Linked DNA regions of Homo sapiens: region 1 is linked to region 2. The links come from fine-mapping of genetic effects on plasma protein levels. Region 2 holds a variant in brackets. A gene starts in the other region. All regions are shown on their forward strands. Region 1 holds the start of CBLN4 (cerebellin 4 precursor). Region 2 has its middle 39 kb from the start of SPINK2.

What was found. A credible set is the group of variants that fine-mapping cannot tell apart. PIP is the chance, under the fine-mapping model, that this variant and not a neighbour inherited with it causes the effect. The UK Biobank Pharma Proteomics Project read protein levels with antibody pairs (Olink). The fine-mapping took linkage between variants from a reference panel, not from the people measured, so its PIPs are less certain.
Region 1: it holds the start of CBLN4, and the variant in region 2 is the best candidate, but not a certain one, in a credible set for the plasma level of the CBLN4 protein (UK Biobank, PIP 0.61).

What each region holds. Positions count from the first base shown.
Region 1 is chr20:56,002,502-56,012,556 of GRCh38, forward strand. CBLN4 (cerebellin 4 precursor) reads right to left here and starts at 3,018. Exons shown (of 3, transcript NM_080617.6): 1 at 1,380-3,018. The coding sequence starts at 1,670.
Region 2 is chr4:56,855,686-56,865,856 of GRCh38, forward strand. No RefSeq gene overlaps it. Among named protein-coding and RNA genes, the nearest start is that of SPINK2, 39 kb to the left of the region's middle. RefSeq lists an enhancer at 4,500-4,569. The variant C/T (reference allele first, on the strand shown) is at 5,460.

The DNA.
Region 1 (10,055 bases), not on the chromosome of region 2:
AAGGCTCACTGAAAAGAAGAACAAACCCTTTTCCTCTTCTAATTGATGGAAAGGTCATTGAAAGGAACACCCTGTATAGAGGATAGTGCAATGCCCACAGTATTCCAACATTTAATTAAAGCATTGAAATACAAACTAGGGGTGGTGCTAGACTTTATTTCCATCAAGATGGAAAATACTGCACCAAAACCCCAAATGGAGCTACTTAATTCTTTAAAAATTATGTCTATCAAATACTAAGCCCCTAGAGAGGCATTCTCTGTCTTTGGCCAGCTGGAGAGTGCATTAGTTAGGAAAAATTAAGCAAGGAATACAGATGTCACCTCGTGCTTTCCCTGGCACATCCTGCAACACCACTTAACCTGTGCCCCCTGCACATTGCAGCTTTGCATACAACTGTGAACTGTGAATTTGGAATTTAAAAAGACTCTGGATACTGTTGGGGCTGAAATTAAAAACTCTGAGGACAGTTTTCTCCCTTAAGACCCCTTGCTAAAGGTAAGCTGATATCCTGGGGTTTCTCATCAAGCCAAACACGGAGCACCAGGTCGCTAAACAGCAGCTACAGCTTCCGTCAGCTCTTCCCCTACTCTCATCAACCTCAAAGTCTGTCTTTCCCCAGCTATTTGCAATTCTCTGAAAGGACATGAGCCCGGGAAGGGAGAACTGGCTCCCAAGCGCTTTCCTACAGGAGCTCAGCGCAGTTGCCAAATTCCTTTTCCTCCCCTCCTCCGCAACTTTTCTCTAAGTACCGGAGAAGGGCTTGCTGCCTACTCCGAGGCAGCGGCAGTGCCAGCGGTGCCTGGCACACGAACAGTGGAACCTGCAGGCGAGATCTGACCCCCGGCTCTGCCCCCGCCCTCCGCGGCCACCTGCCCGATCTCTGAAGAGTGTGGAAGCCCGGGGCTCTCTTGGGAGAGAAGCTTCTCTACCTGGGAGAAACAAATCAAACATTTATCCTGTTCCGCAAAGGTACCCAGGGAGCAGCCTCAGCGGCACCCGCAGAGGAGTCTGAGCAAGGGCACCAAGATCTGGCCAAGAGATAACGACGTCCAGGGACCAGGTGCCCTTCGGCTCCCGCCGACCTGTTGCTCGAAACTTGCCCTGAGCTCTCGCTGCCGGGCTCTGGGCTCCCAAGCCTCTCCCCCGCCGCCGCAGCAGCCTCTTTTAGGGGCCCGGAAGAAATGGGAGCCGGGGCTGGTGAGAGGGGTAGGAAGAGGGACGGTAGAAGTTTCAGACCCAGGCATATTTGGGAAGGCGAGTGCTTTACATGATTCCCCATTTCCCAATCGGACCAGCTTAGCCTGGGCAGGCAGCCTCGTGCTGAGGTGCCTGGAGACCGCCCACCCCCTAGGTGCTCGCTTCCCCCCGGGTCTGACCTGATCGAAGTAAATGATGCGCGTCTTGTTGCTCATCTCGGATGGCTCGTGGTTGGTGCTCCGCACCGCCGAGAAGGCGACCTTGGAGTTGGCCGCCCGGACCGATATCCCCAGCGGGGAGGAAGAGGAGCCCTTGGAGTCCGTGGCCGGGTTCGAGTCGCACACCACCAGACACTTGCCCTCCAGCACGATGGGCTCCGTGTCGTTCTGTGCCCAGACGGGCAGCCCCGGCAGCGTGAGGACCAGCAGCACGGCCGGCACCGCGGACAGCGCCCGGCGCCCGGAGCCCATGGTGAGCCGTGTGGGCAGCCGCAGCCGGCTGGCGCTGGTGCTCGCCCGCGTCGCCTCCTACCCCGGGATCCCGGTGCTCGGGAAGATGCTAGCGGCTAGGTCGACAGCGCTGCAGGAGCGACGGCGGCGGCGGCGCGCACACTTCCACCAATTCTGTGGCTTGAAGTCAAAGTCTCCCCTCGAGCTCTCTCGCTGGCTCTGTTACCTTTGTCCTTTAAGGAGCTCATGCAGCACCCTTTACCCTACTCTCCTCCGCCCAAGAATCAGCCCTGCCTGGGGCCCCTGCACCCACTCTGGTTCCTAGACATCTGAAAGTCATCAAACCCTCACATTCACACCTCAAGGCAAAAAATAATAATAATAATAAATTCTCACCCCAAACTCAAGCACCACCAGCTAAACCACGGAGCAGGAACAAAAAGAGGGGACTCAAAGAGAAGCCACAAGGGTGGCGGGTGCCCAGCGGCGCGGGTGCCAGTCCTGTCTGGCTTGCGGCAGGGACGAGTTACAGAGGCAGAAGGTCCTTCCCAGGCTGAGAAGAACGCGAGGCTGTGTTCATGGCCAGGACGCCAGCGACTCCCACTTTCGCCTGGTCAAAAAAATCCCCCAAACCTGGTGTCACCCAGAGGTAGGGAGGGAGGCAGCGGCTAGCCAGGTCCCTCGCACCGAAAGCGCGGATTCGCAGGATCAGGTCCAGGGCGCCGGGCGCAGCGTTCAGGGCGGCTGGTCCGGCGGGGTCCTCTCCTGCCTGGCCGCCCGCCCCCAGTCCCTGCGCACAACTTTCTCGTCCCTCGTGCAGCCCGGAGAGCGCGAAGCGGGCACACGCGCTCTATTTATAGGAGCGCAGCGTCCGGCTGGGTTGGCTTATCGCGCAACCCGCGGGCTCCGAGAAAAGGGGGAGAAGGCGTCTGGTGACCCCATCTGAGCAGCTCTCTCCTGACGTTTAACGCACCCCAAAGCAAGCGGGGCGCACAGCACTGGTGATTGGCAAGGTTCGAGGCCCCTCAGCCCCTGAAAGCCCGTGGCGTAAAGGATGCGTGCCCAGAGAGGAGCCCACGGCCCTGCGCTGGCCCCAGCTCCGCGCCCACTCTCTCCTGCTCGATCTGAGTCCGCAGAGGAGGCGGCTGGTCCCCTCACCCCTCCCAGCGCGGAACTCTGCCGCCGAGTGCCCTCCAAGCGGAGCGCGGCGCTGCCAGGCCGGGTCGCGAAAAAGGATAAGCCGCCGCGGACCCGCGCTGCGCGCTGCCCCGAACCTGGGGACCGGCGGGCGTCCCGACCGCGCCTGGCCGGGAGCCCGCCCCACACAGCCCTGGGGCCTGGCGAGCTCAGGGAAGCCTTGGGGCGGACCAGAGCCCGTGGGGGCGGCTGGGAGGAGGTGCCTGATTCCTTCCTTCCGCTCCGGGAAGATGAGCCTCAGAAGCCGCAGGGGCGCGCCTTCCCCCCACACCGCGAATCCTCCCCAGGCATGGCCAAAAAAAAGAGTGGGAGAGGGAGTTAACTCAGCAAGAATAAGTCCTCCGAAACCGTGCCAACAACAATAAAAAAATAAAAATAAAAATAAAAATAAAAGACAATCCCACTCCTAGGAATACAGCATTTTTCTCCCCTTTGGATGCGCTTTCCGCCCCCGTGCCACTCCACTGCTATCTTGGCCTCTGATTTGCAAGAGTTCCCTTCCTCTTCTGCAGCTACCACGGGGAAGGGAGGTTTGTCTCTGTCTGGACCCGGCTGCGTGAACTTGGCCGAGTCACTAACCCTCTCTGAGAGGGGGGCGCGGCGTTAACTAAGGTCCTCCCCACCCCCATCCCGCCAGCTTTCCAATTCTGTGATGCTGTGGGGTCATGGCGCCCCTTCCCCAATTTCTTCTACACTTCCAGCTGCCAGAGGGCAGACACGTATGGTATCTTTAACCAAAACAGTATCCCCTCCAGGCATTCGGAGCTCCTAAAATGGCATTGGCTAGTTATGAATGGAAGGGATGTTTATTGAGGGAGGTCCTTGGGATGGACGGCTCCCATTCCTTCCTGAGTGAAGGACGCCCTCATGAGCGTGGCATTCGAGCCCTCCACAAAACAAGGTGAACCTCGTCTCCAGCCTTTTTCCCTTCCTTCAGAAGGGCCGGGCATTGAGCTATAAGCACCAGCTCCAACTGTTAAAATTGAAGACACTACGAGGAATCCCCTAACCCTCACCTCCCTATAATCTCTCAACTAAAGTGTTAATACTTGGTGCCACAGGGGCCTTCAGATTCTGCTCCAGTGGGGCCAGTATCAGGTGTTTTGACTTTATGATTTTATTTTACTTGTGGTGGGGGGTGGTCTCGCTATATTGCCCAGGCTAGATGCAAAACTACTGGGCTCAAGCGATTCTACTACCTCAGCCTCCCCAGTAGCTGAGACTACAGGCCGGTGTCAGTTCCGGCTGGCAGGTGCTAGTACCATGCTATTTGTTAAAATGTTGAAAGTTACCTATCTAAGCTACAACCAAACAAGGTGAACTAGTGCCTTCTGAAGATGGCCACCATTTACCCAGCTTTGATGCCCCACCCTAAGCCCAGCACAATCTTCACCTGATCCCTCTCTGCACTTTGTAACTCTCTTCCAGATTTTAGGGATGTCTGCCTGGTTAACAGCAGCAATTTCTTCTCATTTGATGCAGTCTTTTGAGGGTGGGTGCTGAGTTGAATTTAGTTCCTTTTATTTCCTGTAGGGGTAAGCACCCTGCCTTCCTTGTCTGGGACAGCTGTTCAATAACTAGAACTTTGGTTGTTCAATTTCAGGCTGGGAGAAGTTTGACAAAAAAAAAAAAAAAAAAAAAAAAAAAACTGTGTTGAATTGTTAAATAGAAAATAAGCTATCTTCCTCACCAATTCCAATATATTCTCTCTACCTCCTTTTCTTCTCCAGGCACTTCCTGCACGCAAGAACTGAGATTTGAAGAAACCTATTCTTTCTCTCACCAAAAATATTCATTTTTAGTCCCAAAATCTGCATAGTGACCATAGTAAAGACTCAATAATTGAGAAATGACTGAATGCTTCCTAATAGAAGGTAATTATCACTCATATTATAGTATAAACTGCTTTAAATGAGTCTCTCTCAGTAAAATTTAAATTCAAAGCCTCCTTAATAATTGGGGATAAGGGTCTCGGTTCCTTACTAAAGGATGTTCTGCTCTTCAAAGTGTTCTGAAGATAAGGAACACAGCATTTTCTGTGGACCCCCGCTAAGAGAAGTTATCTTATATTGTGAATCAGAGGGTCCTGACTCTTTTTCCCACAACAGTTGATTAAACACGGATAGCCCCTGGGTTCTAGGACCATCAATGCATTTGATACCAGAAGTCCAAGATTTGTATGGTCCAACTTGGCCAGATGACTTGGGGCTGCCAGATTTTCTCTCTGCAATCTTAATGAGACATCAAAATAGCTTCCAGTAAGCACTACATGTGGCAGAGACAAGGTTTGTAGTCTCCCAAACTGACGTGGCCATGTAGGAGTCATCTGCAAGCTGAAGCAGAAGAGGTATTGGAATAAACCAGAGGACTGGCCACACTTGTAGAAAGAAGCCAATTCTGGAGCATGAGCACTTCTAAGAAGTACAGGGAGTGAATAGTCAATCGCCAGTTCTGAACTCTTGCTTACAAGAGTTCCAGAAACATTTTCTCCTAACCTTGGGTTTCTTGGTATCCTCCTATGTCTTTGAAATAAAAACCCAATTCCCTTGAGCTAGTTTTAGTAACATACCGCTCCCTGTCATCCAGAATCCTCATTAGAACATTGTCCCAGAAACCATACCACAAAAGGCTATGGATCTCTTGCCAAAAGACTAACAAATCCAATCTCCTGCCTGTAGGAAATGCTTTTCCAACATTTTGGGAAAGGAGGCATCACCTGTTCCTCACCCCCTACTTCAGCCCCAGCATCCCCAGGAGAAAAGAAACAAGATCAAGTTTAAGTTTCTCTCCAACCACAGCATAGATCTGTTTTTCTTTTTCTTTTTCTTGTATTTTTCCAGTTGAAAATATGCTATTAGAAGACCTAGCAGTGACCCAAATATTTTCCCTTTCTGAGATTCCCATATTGTATTTGATGCCTAGGATTTTTTTTTTCTCCTAGACCTTTAGAGATGACGCAGAAATGCATTTCAGTTCTCTGCAGCTGGGCTTAACTTTAAAGTAAATTAGAATCTAAACTATCCTTGCATAGGAAAGCAATACTTCTGAGGTCAGTAAATTCAATGACTGCTTGTCCAGCCATCCTTTAGAGAAACCAAGTTTCAAGCAAGCCCAAGACAGTAAGGATCTATGAGCTATTTTCTGACTGTGAAGAAAATGTTTCTGAGAAGGCAAAGACAGACACACACAAGGTATTCAGCTCTAAGGGCCTCACTGTGGTTGAATGAAAGCAGACTCCATGCATCATGCAGCAGAGACAGCCGCAGGTCAGTCGTGCAGAAGATGGAAAATCGAGAGAGAGAGAGCAGTGAGGCTTGCATCATACCCAGACAAAGTTCCACTGAGTTGCTTAATTACCCTTTGCTCTTTATAATGATAGTTATCAGCCCAAGCTAATGATCTTTTTTGAGGGAGAGTAAGTAGCTTAAGAAGAAAAAGTCTTGGTGGGACTGTAAACTAGTTCAACTATTGTGGAAGTCAGTGTGGCAATTCCTCAGGGATCTAGAACTAGAAATACCATTTGACCCAGCCATCCCATTACTGGGTATATACCCAAAGGATTATAAATCATGCTGCTATAAAGACACATGCACATGTATGTTTATTGCAGCACTATTCACAATAGCAAAGACTTGGAACCAACCCAAATGTCCATCAATGATAGACTGGATTAAGAAAATGTGGCACATATACACCATGGAATACTATGCAGCCATAAAAAAGGATGAGTTCATGTCCTTTGTAGGGACATGGATGAAGCTGGAAACCATCATTCTCAGCAAACTCTCTCAAGGACAGAAAACCAAACACCGCATGTTCTCACTCATAGCTGGGAATTGAACAATGAGAACACATGGACACAGGAAGGGGAACATCACACACCAGGGACTGTTGTGGGGTGGGGGGAGGTTGGAGGGATAGCATTAGGAGATATACCTGTTAAATGACGAGTTAATGGGTGCAGCACACCAACATGGCACATGTATACATATGTAACAAACCTGCGCGTTGTGCACATGTACCCTAAAACTTAAAGTATATTAGAAAAAAAGAAGAAGAAGAAAAAGTCTCCATGAACAACCAATATGTGAGAACTTACATAGTCTGGAAAGTTCCAGAGTCATGTTGAGTAAATCTTCATAGCTCCTTCTGGAGACAGCCAAATGACAGACTTGTTTCATATGAGGATGGTATTGTGGGAAAAAAATAGATGGATGCTGTAAAAAATACTTCTCAATTGGTTTTAGAATTTGAAAATTGTTTGGGACAGTTTTTCTAGATAGTTTATTCCACTCACCCCATTGGCAAATAAGGTACGTGTCTAAGACATCAGTGAGAAGTGAGACGTCTTGGTCATGGCTGCAGACAGGTTTTGATGCCCCTTTTTGGCTTCCCATGATACCCTGAGCATGTTCCAGTCATTATATTTATCATAATGGTTTTAGTTGATTTATTGTTGTGTTTTCCCTGGACCATTAACTCTTTGGGAGGACAGAATTTAGCAGAGAGTAGGTATGCATAAATAAAGTTTACTGAATAAAGTAACATCATTGCTTTTAGTTCTCATAAGGGAAACAATATAACATTTAATCACTATGATCTAAGTATGATAGGAAAAGTAAAATTATTTCAGAAATGTTGGGGGCTTAAAACGTCAAGTCCACCTTAGTTACTAAGAATGGAAGCCCAGTGAGAAAAGGTTTTGTGGAAAGGGCCACATCTTGAAATGTGTTGAGTTGAACCTTGAGACTGTAGTAAAATCTTAGAAAGAACCTAAAAAATTCTCTCTCTCTCTCTCTCCCTCCCTCCCTCTCCCTCTCTCTCTCCAGTCTCTCTCTCTCTCCCCGTCTCTCTCTTTCTCTCTCTCTCCCCCATCTCTCTCTTTCTCTCTCCCCACTGTCTCTCTCTCTCTCTCTCTCTCTCTCTCTCTCTCTCTCTCTCTCTGCTCTCTCTGTGTCCCTCCCTCTCTTCCCCTCTCCTGGGCACATCTTCATTATTCTTTGGCTCACTGCAATCTACCGTTCTCTGAGGCCCGCATGAGGGAAAATGGCAGCTGATACTTCCAGATTTCACACATAACAAAGCCATCCACTCAGAGATGCCCCCAGATCCCCGAGAAGAGATGCACTGCAGCCATCTGCGTTCAGATGCCCAATCCCAAACCAATCAACTTGGCTGTAGAAACAGAATCATGCTGCACACGTGACTGATATCCCAGCAATGAGGTGTGTAGAAAATTGGGGCGGGGCATGGGAAAAGGAAAAATCCTAGAAAGCTAATATAAGCAATATGTGGCAAAGGGAAGAAGAACAAGAGGCAGACTAATTTGTGTTGTGTGATTCCAAGTTAATTCCCTGCAAGTGTGTACAGATATGTGTGTATTTCAATACACAGAGAATACAAGTTGGCAACAACTTGTCAAATTTAAAGGAATTGAATAGAAGGAAACACTATTAATTGTATTTCAGATGTTTCCTTATTATATATGTGCTCACAGCAATTGTGTATTACATTGTGATTCACGTTTGAAAATTTTTTGTTTTTTGAGGTGCAGTCTCGCTCTGTTGCCCAGGCTGGAGTGCAGTGGCATGATCTTGGCTCACTGCAAGCTCCGCCTCCCGGGTTCACGCCATTCTCCTGCCTCAGTCTCCCAAGTAGCTGGGACTACAGGTGCCCACCACCACGCCCGGCTAATTTTTTTGTATTTTTAGTAGAGACGGGGTTTCACCATGTTAGCCAGGATGGTCTCGATCTCTTGACCTCATAATCCTCCTGCCTCGGCCTCCCAAAGTGTTGGGATTACAGGCGTGAGCCACCGCGCCCAGCCCACATTTAAAATATTTTTTAAAAAAGAAAGGGTTTCTGAGTAGATCATCCAATAGTGATCTATCACATTCACACTTCTTCTCCATAGTTTACTCTTAATTAAAGTTTAAAAAGTGGCATTGATTGAACAGCAATCTCCCTTTTTTGTTATACTGATCCGACTCTAAAAATCACTTACTCCAAGTTTAGAAAGATGCTCTGATATAGAAAGCCTCACAGTATACATTTAAGAAAAAAAATTCCATTGCAACTAGTAACACTGATGCATGCTGTCAAAATTTCTCGCTACATTTTATTCAACTTGGCTTTCTTTATATAGTATGTTAGCATCTAGGAAAGCCATAGCTCAGTGCTGGGTGTATGACATGTGCCTGGCCACTCGTGTTTATGTTGTGTAGATAAGAAGAGTCTAAATGTGGGGTCCAAACCAATGGCTACTTGTAAGAATCAGCTGGGATGCTTCTTTCCAACAGAGACTCTCTGGCCTTACTCTGAGATAATGGCTCTGCCCATGAACTGGGAAGGTTTACTTAACCAGCACCCAGGTAAATCTGAAGCAGATGGTGTTTGACTTTGTAGATGCCATTGGCGTGATGCCACAAGAGTCCATTTGCATTCGGGTTTTTTAGCTCTATGGTTAAAAACAGGGTGTTTAGAGTCAGCTCTACCTCCTACTAGCTTTATGACCATACAGCAAGTTACAAACCTTCCTTCATCCAAGAAAATTGCAATCATGAAAATCATATTCAGTCCATAGCTTCTTGTGAGAACTGAGTGGGGAAATTTGGGCAGAGCATTTAGCTCTGCACCTGGCACACAGGAAAGGCTCAATTAAGGGTAGCAATTATTATCATTAATCTGTAGACTCTACTAATGACTAAAGGTGTCAAACCACCACACTCTAAACCAAGGCCCATTAACTATTGGCAAGCAATGGCCCAACTTAACCTCACAGACATTATAATAGGGGAAAACGAAGTGTACCCAAGTGTGAGAGACAATCCAGGTTCAGATGCCCAGAAAATAATCACACCCGAGTTTGCAGGGCCAGCCATTGCTGATAGATCAATGCTTATCATTATGCAGAGCTAAAGCTCTTGAATGAAGCGAAGACACCAGGCATGTTTGTGAGCTCCCTACAGGGGATGAACAACAGGTTTAATTTTATTTTTATTTCTTTCTTCCCATACTCTCAATCATTATGTCTCATCTGAAAGAAGCATTGAGTGGAAATAGATGGATTCTTCAAAGTGGAAATTATACAGAAAGTCAAGAACAGCTGGTCAGAAACAGTCACCACAGAAACAGGAGTTCAGAAAGCCAGGTAGACACCAGAAAATAACACGGCAGTTGTTAAATATCCAGGAGCCAACACGGGCATCT
Region 2 (10,171 bases):
TCACCATGTTGTCCAGGCTGGTCTTGAACTCCTGGCCTCAATCAATCCTTTTGCCTCGGCCTCCCAAAGTGCTGGGATTACAGGTGTGTGCTACCAGCACCTGGCCCAGATTAGGTGTTTGATGAGAACCCACTTCCTGGTTCATAGCCAGCCATCTTGCTGTGTCCTCACATGGCTGAAAGCAGTAAAAAATCTCTCTGGGGCCACTTTTATAAGGGCATTGATCCCATTATGAGGGCTCCACCCTCATGACTTAATCACCACCCAGAAGCCCTACCTCCAAATACCATTACATTGGGGATTAGGTTTCAATATATGAATTTGGAGAAGGGGGTTGGGGGAGACACAAACATTCAGACCACAACACGTATATAAAGCAAAAACATATATATTCTCTCCACTCCCCTTTCTCTACTGTTACTTTTGTGTATATTTTCCACACTGTTCTGCATTTGCCTTTTTTCACTTAACAATTTAACAATACAACCTGGAGATCATTAAATATCAGTACATTAAGTGTCAGCTTTTTTTTTTTTTTTTTTTTTTTCCAGATGGAGTCTTGCTCTGTCACCGAGGCTGGAGTGCAATGGCGCAATCTCAGCTCACTGCAACCTCCGCCTCCTGAGTTCAAACGATTCTCCTGCCTCAGCCTCCTGAGTAGTTGGGATTACACCACCATGCCCGGCTAATTTTTGAATTTTTAGTAGAGAGGGCATTTCGCCATGTTGGTCAGGCTGGTCTCGAACTCCTGACCTCAGGTGATCCACCCACCTTGGCCTCCCAAAGTGCTGGGATTACAGGCATGAGCCACCGTGCCCAGTCAATATAAAATTCTTAGAGTTCAAAAAACTTACCTTATAGATGACATTGAAATTTCAGTTTAATTCTTGTACAAGTATTGTAAATATTGTTGTTTCTAACACTCCAAAGTCTTGCTATTTGGCTTAATTTTTTATTTAAATAATGTACATATTTCCAGCTGCACTATAAACTACAGAGAGCAAAACTCAGGAAGGTGGCAAATAGTTCAGCTGTTTTACAGACCTGAGCCCTGGCAGAAGAGAAGAGGAAAAGGGGCTCTCCGCTGGACCGCTCCCACAGGCTCTTACTGTCCTTGAGGCATTTTCCTTGCCCAAATAAGAAGGAAAATTATTTTCCAGTCTTAAATCAAGTGCCAAAATTATTCTTGGAATTGCTCCCTTCATCTGTCCGTTTCAGTTTTTTCCCCATGGAGGTGTGGTCAGGGCAGCCAGAACTTCACCGTCAGAATCAGGATTGGAACTTAATTGCTCCCACAGACAGCTGGTTTGGAAAAACTCCTTGCAAGGCAATTTTGATAAGGGATGAGAAAGATCAGAAAGCTGATACGTGTTGGATCTGAAGCTCTAACCATACACCTGACTTGAGTCTTTCTACAGGGCTAGTGGCTAACAGAGATACAAAGGAATTAATCATCTTCGGGGATTTTTAGGAAAGAAAAGACAGAGGAGCTGAGTTCCACAAATTGTTAATGTTAGTCTCTAGCTCATTTCCCAAGTTCTTCATTTTCACTCTCCTGCTTAGTCCAGTCTAGTCAAGAGCGTGGGCTTTGGAGTCAGATGAACCTTAGCCACATCCATGTTTGTCCCTTGTTGGCTGTGGGATCACAAGTAAATTAGCCTCCTAGAGATAGGGTCTCCACCAATAAGACCGGGAGCATGCTCTCCTCCTCTACCTTCCTGTCAGTGTTGAAGTGAGGATTAAAGAAAATCAACTATGGGCACGGTGTCTTGCATGGTCCTGACAAATAAGGCTCAGTAAATGTTAGTTCATTTCATATTATCACCTTTCTACCCCTCTGACCAATGGCCTAAAACTCATTCTTCTGGAGTTTATGGTCTTGACCAGTATTAAGTTAGAAAAGAAGCATTATGGTAAGGCAATCTAAGTGGGACCACTGGCTTCACCTGTACCTAAACTAGAATTTGGAATTTTTCTAAAAATCCATTCCTTTCAATGTGGTAAGATTTTCAAACCCTCTGAAATGTATTTTGCAGTGTCAACAGCCCCTCTGTGAGAAAAATCCATACCTCTGGGGGCAACTCTAACAGGTTTTGTAATCAAGTCAAAACTGCAGCTTATATTGAAACATTTCACAATCTTGTAAAGCAATTTAGATACAAATAGATGTTTTACAAAATCAGGTTCAAGTTTCTCTTTTCTTTCCTCTCCCTAGAGAATATAAAAGGCAGCTCTCAAAAAATAGGAACTGGTTTTATCATAGAGACTTTAGAAATTATCTGAAACAAATGGTTTTGAGATGTTATACAGTACAAATATACAGTAGTGATTTACTTTAATTCAAATTATTTATTTATAGAAACCTAACAGGGACCAATTTAACCATAGTGGCAGACATTGGCTAGCTATTCACCAAATCTGTTTTTCTTCTGGGCACGCAGCTAGACTGTATTTCTCAACTTCACTTGAACTTAGGATGTGCCAAGTAGAATGTGGTCAAAAATGATATACAGCCAGGCGTGGTGGCTCATGCCTGTAATCCCAGTACTTTGGTAGGCCAAGGCAGGAGAATTGCTGGAACCCAGGAGTTCAAGACTAACATGGGCAACATAGCAAGACCTTGTCTCTATAGCAATTACAAAAATTAGCTGGGCATGGTGGCTGGCAGGCGCCTGTAGTCCCAGCAACTCAGGAAGCTGAGATAGGAGGATCACTTGAGCCCAGGAGGTTGTGGCTGCAATGAGTGAGCTGTGATCACACCACTGCATTCCATCCTGTGCGACAGAGTGGGGGTGGGGGGAAGTTTTATATATATATATATATATACATGAAATCACTTCCAGACCTGGCCCATTAGAACTGCATGCCATTTAACCTTCCTGGATGAAAGGAAGAAACATGACTCCCTGGACAATCTTGGGAGCTACTTTTTTTTTTTTTTTTGAGACGGAGTCTCGCTCTGTTGCCCAGGCTGGAGTGCAGTGGCGCGATCTCGGCTCACTGCATGAGCTTCAGCTCACCTTACAATGGGTAACACAGGCAACAGACAAATAAATAATAAGATTTCAAGCACTGATTATTACAGCTGTCCCTCGGTATCCATGAAGGATTGGTTCCAGGACCCCCCCATGGATAAGAAAATCCAAAGATGCTCAAGATCCTTATATGAAATGGCATAGTACTTGTATATAACCTACACACATCCTCCTGCATACTTTTTTTCTTAATAAAAAAAAGTTTGAGTTTTTCTTTGACACACGGTCTCACCATGTCACCCAGGCTGCAGTGAAATGGCATAAACACAGCTCACTACAGCCTTAAATCCCTGGGCTTAAACACCTGCCTCAGCCTCCCAAGAAGCCAGGACTACAGGCATGTGACACCATGCAGGGTTATTTTTGTTTTTATTTTTTTATAGAGACAAGGTATTGCGATGATCCCCAGGCTGGTCTCAAACTCCTGGCCTCAAGTGATCCTCCAACTTCAGCCTCCCAAGACAGGCATAAGCCAGTCTGCCCAACCCTCTTGTGTGCTTTAAATGATCTCTAGTGTACTTATAATACCTAATACAATGTAAATGCATATAAGTAGTGTTTTTGTTTGTTTGCTTTGTTTTGTTTTGTTTTTGAGACAGAGTCATGCTCTATTGCCCAGGCTGGAGTGCAGTGACCTGATTTCGGCTCACTGCAACCTCTGCCTCCCAGGTTCAAGTGATTCTCCTGCCTCAGCCTCCTGAGTAGCTGGGACTACAGGCGCCCACCACTACACCCAGCTAATTTTTCTATTTTTAGTAGAGACAGGGTTTCACCACGTTGGCCAGGCTGGTCTTGAACTCCTGACCTCAGGTGATCTGCCCGCCTCAGCCTCCCAAACTGCTGGGATTACAGGAGTGAGCCACCGTGCCCGGCCAGTTTTTTTTTTGTTTGTTTTTTGTTTTGAGACAGAGCGTGGTTCTGTCAACAGGCTTCAGTGCGGTACCGCAACATCTGCCTCCCAGGTTCAAGCAGTTCTCTGCCTCCTGAGTAGCTGGGATTACAGGTGCCTGCCACCATGCCCAGCTAATCTTTGTATTTTTAGTAGAGACAGGGTTTCACCATCTTAGCCGGCTGGTCTTGAGCTCCTAACCTCATGATCCACCACCTCGGCCTCCCAAAGTGCTGGGATTACAGGCGTGAACCACTACGCCTAGCTATATAAGTAGTTTTTATACTCTCTTGTTAGACAATATGACAAAGGGAAAAAAGGCCTATACATATTCAGTCTGTACAGCAGCAGTCACCTATTTTGTCTCGTTGAATATTTTCGATCCATGGTTGGTTGAATCCACAGATGTCACACTCACAGATATGAAACCCACAGATAGAGAGGGCTTACTGTACTTAGATGGAAAGTAAAGAAGAATAAAAGGAGTTAGAGAGAGGCCGGAAGGATCTTTTAGAAAAGGTGGTTGGGAAAGAGCTTTCTGTGCTGGTAGCATCTGACCAGAGACCTGAATGATACAAAGAAGCTAATCATACCAAGATCAGAAGGGACAATGAACTCTTAACAATTGTTCCTCTGAAACAAGTTATTTGTAGAAGGAAAACAAAGGTAACGACAGTATAAAAAAGAAAAGAAAACTAGGCCAGGTGCGGTAGCTCACGCCTGTAATCCCAGCACTTTGGGAGGCTGAGGGGGGCAGATCACTTGAGGCCAGGAGTTCAAGACCAGCCTGGCTAACATGGCTAAATCCCACATCTCTACTGAAAATACAAAAATTAGGCCAGGCGCGGTGGCTCACGCCTGTAATCCCAGAACTTTGGGAGGCCAAGGCAGACAGATCACCTGAGGTCGGCAGTTCGGGACCAGCCTGACCAACATGGAGAAACCCCGTCTCTACTAAAAATCCAAAATTAGCTGGGTGTAGTGGCACATGCCTGTAATCCCAGCTACTTGGGAGGCTGAAGCAGGAGAATCGCTTGAATCGGGGAGGTGGAGATTGCAGTGAGCTGAGATTGCACCACTGCACTCTAGCCTGGGCAACAGAGCGAGACCTGGTCTCAAAAAAAAAAAAAAAATTGCAGGGCGTGGTGGCACACACCTGTAGTCCCAGCTGTTCAGGAGGCTGAGGTAGAAGAATTGCTTGAACCCAAGAAGCGGAGGTTGCAGTGAGCTGAGATTGTGCCACTGCACTCCAGCCTGGGCAACAGAATGAGACCCTGTCTCAAAAAAAAAAAAAAAAAAAAAAGACTGAAATGAATCAACTTAGATAAAGATTAGTCAAAGAGAAAGATGAAACCCAAACCCCAGTCTTATAGATTCCTGACCTGACTTTGCCCTTGTCTAAAAATCTGCAGCCTGGTGGATAAAGCTCTTTCTTCCATTTTTGGCTTTGTATCCCTATTTCCAGTCTTTCAAGTTGAAATTTGCCCATTTATTCAGGCAACTCAATAAATATAGTAATATGTCAGGCTCTATCG[C/T]TAGACATTCGTAAACTCTATCTACATAAACTGAACTTTAGGAACTCCAGCAGGTTATTTAAAATCTCCAGTCCCTAATTTCCTCATCCCTAAAACAGAGACAGCACTAGTAACTAAGTTACTTTAGAGGTTTGTTCTGATGATCAGATGAGATAGTTCACCTAAAATGCTAGTACAGAGTAAGCACTGAAGAAATATTTTCATGAAGTCTAAATTAACCTGCTGGACACCATTCAGAGCACAAGTCTATCAAGTACCTGACTCTATGTTCTTAAGAACCCAAGATACTTCTGCCTTCTTTTGGGCCAGACTTCAATTCATTCAGACTTGAAGAGAAAGAAGAGTCTTCCCCATTAGCTTTGCAGGTGGTGGCAGTGAGCCAATAGCCTCTGGTATGCAGAAGGCTTTGTGTCAGTGATGCATATTCACGAGTAGCTGACCTGAGAGAGCAATCTGGCTCTCTGAGCAAGGTCACTTCTGAGCTGCTGTCCTGTACAACTCCACAGGGCACCATGCACATAGAACTGAACTGTAATCTGTTTGTGCATTGGGAAATCAAGTCATGGCTTATGGCTAGGATCTTTTTTTTTTTGAGATGGAGTTTTGCTCTTGTTACACAGGCTGGAGTACAATGGTGCGATCTCGGCTTACGGCAACTTCGGCCTCCCAGGTTCAAGCGATTCTCCTGCCTCAGCCTCCCGAGTAGCTGGGATTACAGGCATGTGCCACCACACCCAGCTAATTTTGTATTTTTAGTAGAGATGGGGGTCTCTCCATGTTAGTCAGGCTGGTCTCGAACTCCCGATCTCAGGTGATCCACCCGCCTTGGCCTCCCAAAGTGCTGGGATTACAGGTGTGAGACACCACACCCAGCCCAAAATTCTTAAAAGAAGCTAGCCATGGCTGGGTGCGGTGGCTCATGCCTGTAATCCTGGCACTTTGGGAGGCCAAGGTGGGCGGATCACCTGAGGTCGGGAGTTCGAGACCAGCCTGACTAACATGGAGAGACCCCCCATCTCTACTAAAAATACAAAATTAGCTGGGTGTGGTGGCTCATGCCTGTAATCCCAGCTACTAGGGAGGCTGAGGCAGGAGAATCGCTTGAACCCAGGAGGTGGAGGTGGCGGTGAGCTGAGATTGCCCCATTGCACTCCAGCCTGGGTGACAGAGTGAGATCCTGTCTCAAAAAAAAAAAAGAAAGAAAGAAAGAAAAAAAGAAAAGGGCCAGGCGCAGTGGTTCACGCCTGTAATCCCAGCACTTTGGGAGACCGAAGTGGGTGGATCACCTGAGGTCAGGAGTTCGAGACCAGCCTGGCCAACATGGTGAAACCCCATCTTTACTAAAAATACAAAAAGTTAGCCGGGCGTGGTGGCGCACTACTGTAGTTCCAGCTACTCGGGAGCTGAGGAAGGAGAATCGCTTGAACCTGGGAGGCAGAGGTTGCAGTGAGCCAAGATCAAGTCATTGTACTTCATTCAGCCTGAGCAACAAGAGTGAAACTCCATCTAAAAAAAAAAAGAAAAAGAAAAAGAAAAGAAAAAAGAAGATATCAAGGTACATCATATATAACAAGAATAGATATTTTTTACCTGAAACAGTTATATAAGTTTATACATATATACATACACACACCACGCACACATAATTTTACATATATATATATGTTTTATATATATTAATTTTAGGGTTTGTTGTTGTTGTTGTTGTTGTTGTTGTTTGAGATGGAGTCTTGCTCTGTCACCAGGCTGGAGTGCAGCGGCAGGATCTCAGCTCACTGCAACCTCTGCCTCCCGGGGTCAAGCAATTCTCCTGCCTCAGCCTCCGGAGTAGCTGGGACTAGAGACGCACGCCACCATGCCTAGCTAATTTTTGTACTTTTAGTAGAGACGAGGTTTCACCATGTTGGCCAGGATGGTCTCGATCTCCTGACCTTGTGATCTGCCCGCCTTGGCCTCCCAAAGTGCTGGGATTACAGGCATGAGCCACCACACCCTGCCTAGTGTTAGTTTTATATATTGCAGATTGCAGAAGATGCTGTGATGTACTACCCAGAGTCTGTCCTTCAGGACTAAGGCACACAGTCCCCAGCTCCCATGAATGCTGCCTGCTGACTACTCAGAATTCAATCCCTCCCCAGGAGCTGCCCATGGTCTGAGAGAGTTGAGTAAACCCAGGATCAGGACCCCTTCCCAGGGAAAGCCCACATCCAGTGACTGGCCAATTTGAAAGGTAGGTACAAAGGCCCAGCCCTCCCAGAGTGACCAACTTGTCCTGGTTTGCCTGGGACTTTCCTGGCTTTAAAACAGAAAGTCCCATGTCCTGAAAACCCAGGGCAAACTAGATAAACTGGGATGATTGGCCACCCTACTCTTGCCTCAATTTGGGACACCACTGATGACCCACCTTCAGAACTCTCTCTGGGATCAATTGAGGCTCCCCCTGGGTTGTAAGAGCATCACAGTTCAACCTCTCCCTCTGCCCAGTCCTGCATCCCTTGCTCTCTGACAGGTGCTGCTCCTAGGGTGCTCCCCAGTGAACAGGCTGCATGTAACTCCCCAGCCCAGATCTGCTTCCAAGGGAACCTAGCCTGCTAGTATAGCGAGTCCTAATAATCAAATGCATTTCTTGCTGGGAACCAAGGTCAAAAAGATTTGGAAGCCACTTCTACAGTAGATACTACCAGTTTGTAGTATTTACATAGCACACCTCTTTTCCATTAATAATAGCATCCTGCTTCTTTTGGGGAAGTAGTACTACTCTGACTCAAGTCAGGGGTTCTTGTGGGCACCTCTAACTTCCAACTATCACCACAAGGCCTGTGACTCAATCTAGACCAATCAGAATAATTTCCTGGAATTTTTCTATTCATACTTAAAGAAAAAGACTCCTGGCTGGGCGTGATGGCTCATGCCTGTAATCCCAGCACTTTCGGAAGCCGAGGCGGGCGGATCACCTGAGGTCAGGAGTTCGAAACCAGCCTGGCCAACATGGCAAAACCCCGTCTCTACCAAATATACAAAAATTAGCCAGGTGTGGTGGCGGGCGCCTGTAATCCCAGCTACTCAGGAGACTGAGACAGGAGAATCGCTTGAACCCAGGAGACTGCGGTGAGCCAAGACTGCACCATTGCACTCCAGCCTGGGCAACAAGAGAGAGACTCCTCAAAAAAAAAGAAAAAAAAAAAAGAAAAAGAAAAAGACTCCTTTCCTGGGGCCTCCCAGAGGCCATGTAGCCCATACACAGGCAGAGTAGTGGGGAAAATTAAGATAAACAGATTCCTGCGACATCACAGTGGGATTTCAGGCAGTCCTGGGACCCACTTGCACCTCTACTCTTCCTTGTTTCTCCTCCAGGTGGGCTTCTGCCATCTGCGGCCAAAAGGATCCTGACTGGTGGCACAGACTTTTAAGAAAAGCAGCTATACTGCTGCTTATACCTAATTTTTTTTTCTTTGTTACATTTATCTGTCTTCACTTCTTTTGCCTTCTTTCCTCTACTTAAGTACTTTCCTCTTTTGAACCACTTTTTTTTTTTTTGAGACAGAGTCTTGCTCTGTCGCCCAGGCTGGAGTGCAGTGGTGCGATCTCGGCTCACTGCAAGCTCCGCCTCCTGGGTTCACACCATTCTCCTGCCTCAGCCTCCCGAGTAGCTGGGACTACAGGCGCCTGCCACCGCGCCCAGCTAATTTTTTGTATTTTTAGTAGAGATGGGGTTTCACCGTGGTCTCCATCTCCTGACCTCGTGATCCGCCTGCCTCGGCCTCCCAAAGTACTGGGATTAAAGGCGTGAGCCACTGCGCCCGGCCTGAACCACTTTTTTAAGACCTGTTCAAATGTCTCCTGCTCAGTGAAGTCAAACTTTCCTGCCACTCCCAGACAGGTGCATAGTTAGATCCATGGACAAACGTTCATGAGATCTTGCTACTATGATGCTTATGGCTGCTGCTGTGCTAGCACAAGGCCAAAGATGGAGCAGTGCACAGCCCAGACCTCCAGGAGCTTTAGTGTTGTAGTGGAGCAGGCTGGCTCCTAAACAGATAATTACCATTTGAGGTGGTAAGTGCACTGACAGAGATGTTAGAGACCCACACCTAGGAGAGGGAAGTGTGAGGTAGCAACATGTTTGTCAATAATCTATTAGCCCCCCCTTTTTTTTTGAGACAAAGTCTTGCTCTGTCACCCAGGCTGGAGTGCAGTGGCATGATTTCAGCTCACTGCAACCTCCGTCGCCCAGATTCAAGTGATTCTTGTGCCTCAGCCTCCCGAGTAGCTGGGATTACAGGTGCGTGCCACCACGCTGGGCTAATTTTTGTATTTTTAGTAGAGACGAAGTTTTGCCATGTTGGCCAGGCTGGTCTTGAACTCCCAACCTCAGGTGATCTACCCTCCTCAGTCTCCCACAGCGCTGGGATTGTACAGACTTGAGCCACTGTGTTCGGCCTTTTAACTCCTTTTCTGTAGTGCGGGTACATAATTGCTTCTTCCTTTTTATTTCCTCTGCACCTTTGTATTTCTTTAGCATTTATTTCATTCTATTTTACCTTAATGGTTTTCTTGAGGAACGACTTCATGGGTATGTGTATTAGTCAGTTGTAGCATTACTAGGAAGGAATGCCTGAGACTGCGTAATTTAAGAAAAGAGGTTTAATTGGCTCACGGTTCTGCAGGCTTTACAGGAAGCATGGTGCTGACATCAGCTTCTGGCAAGGCCT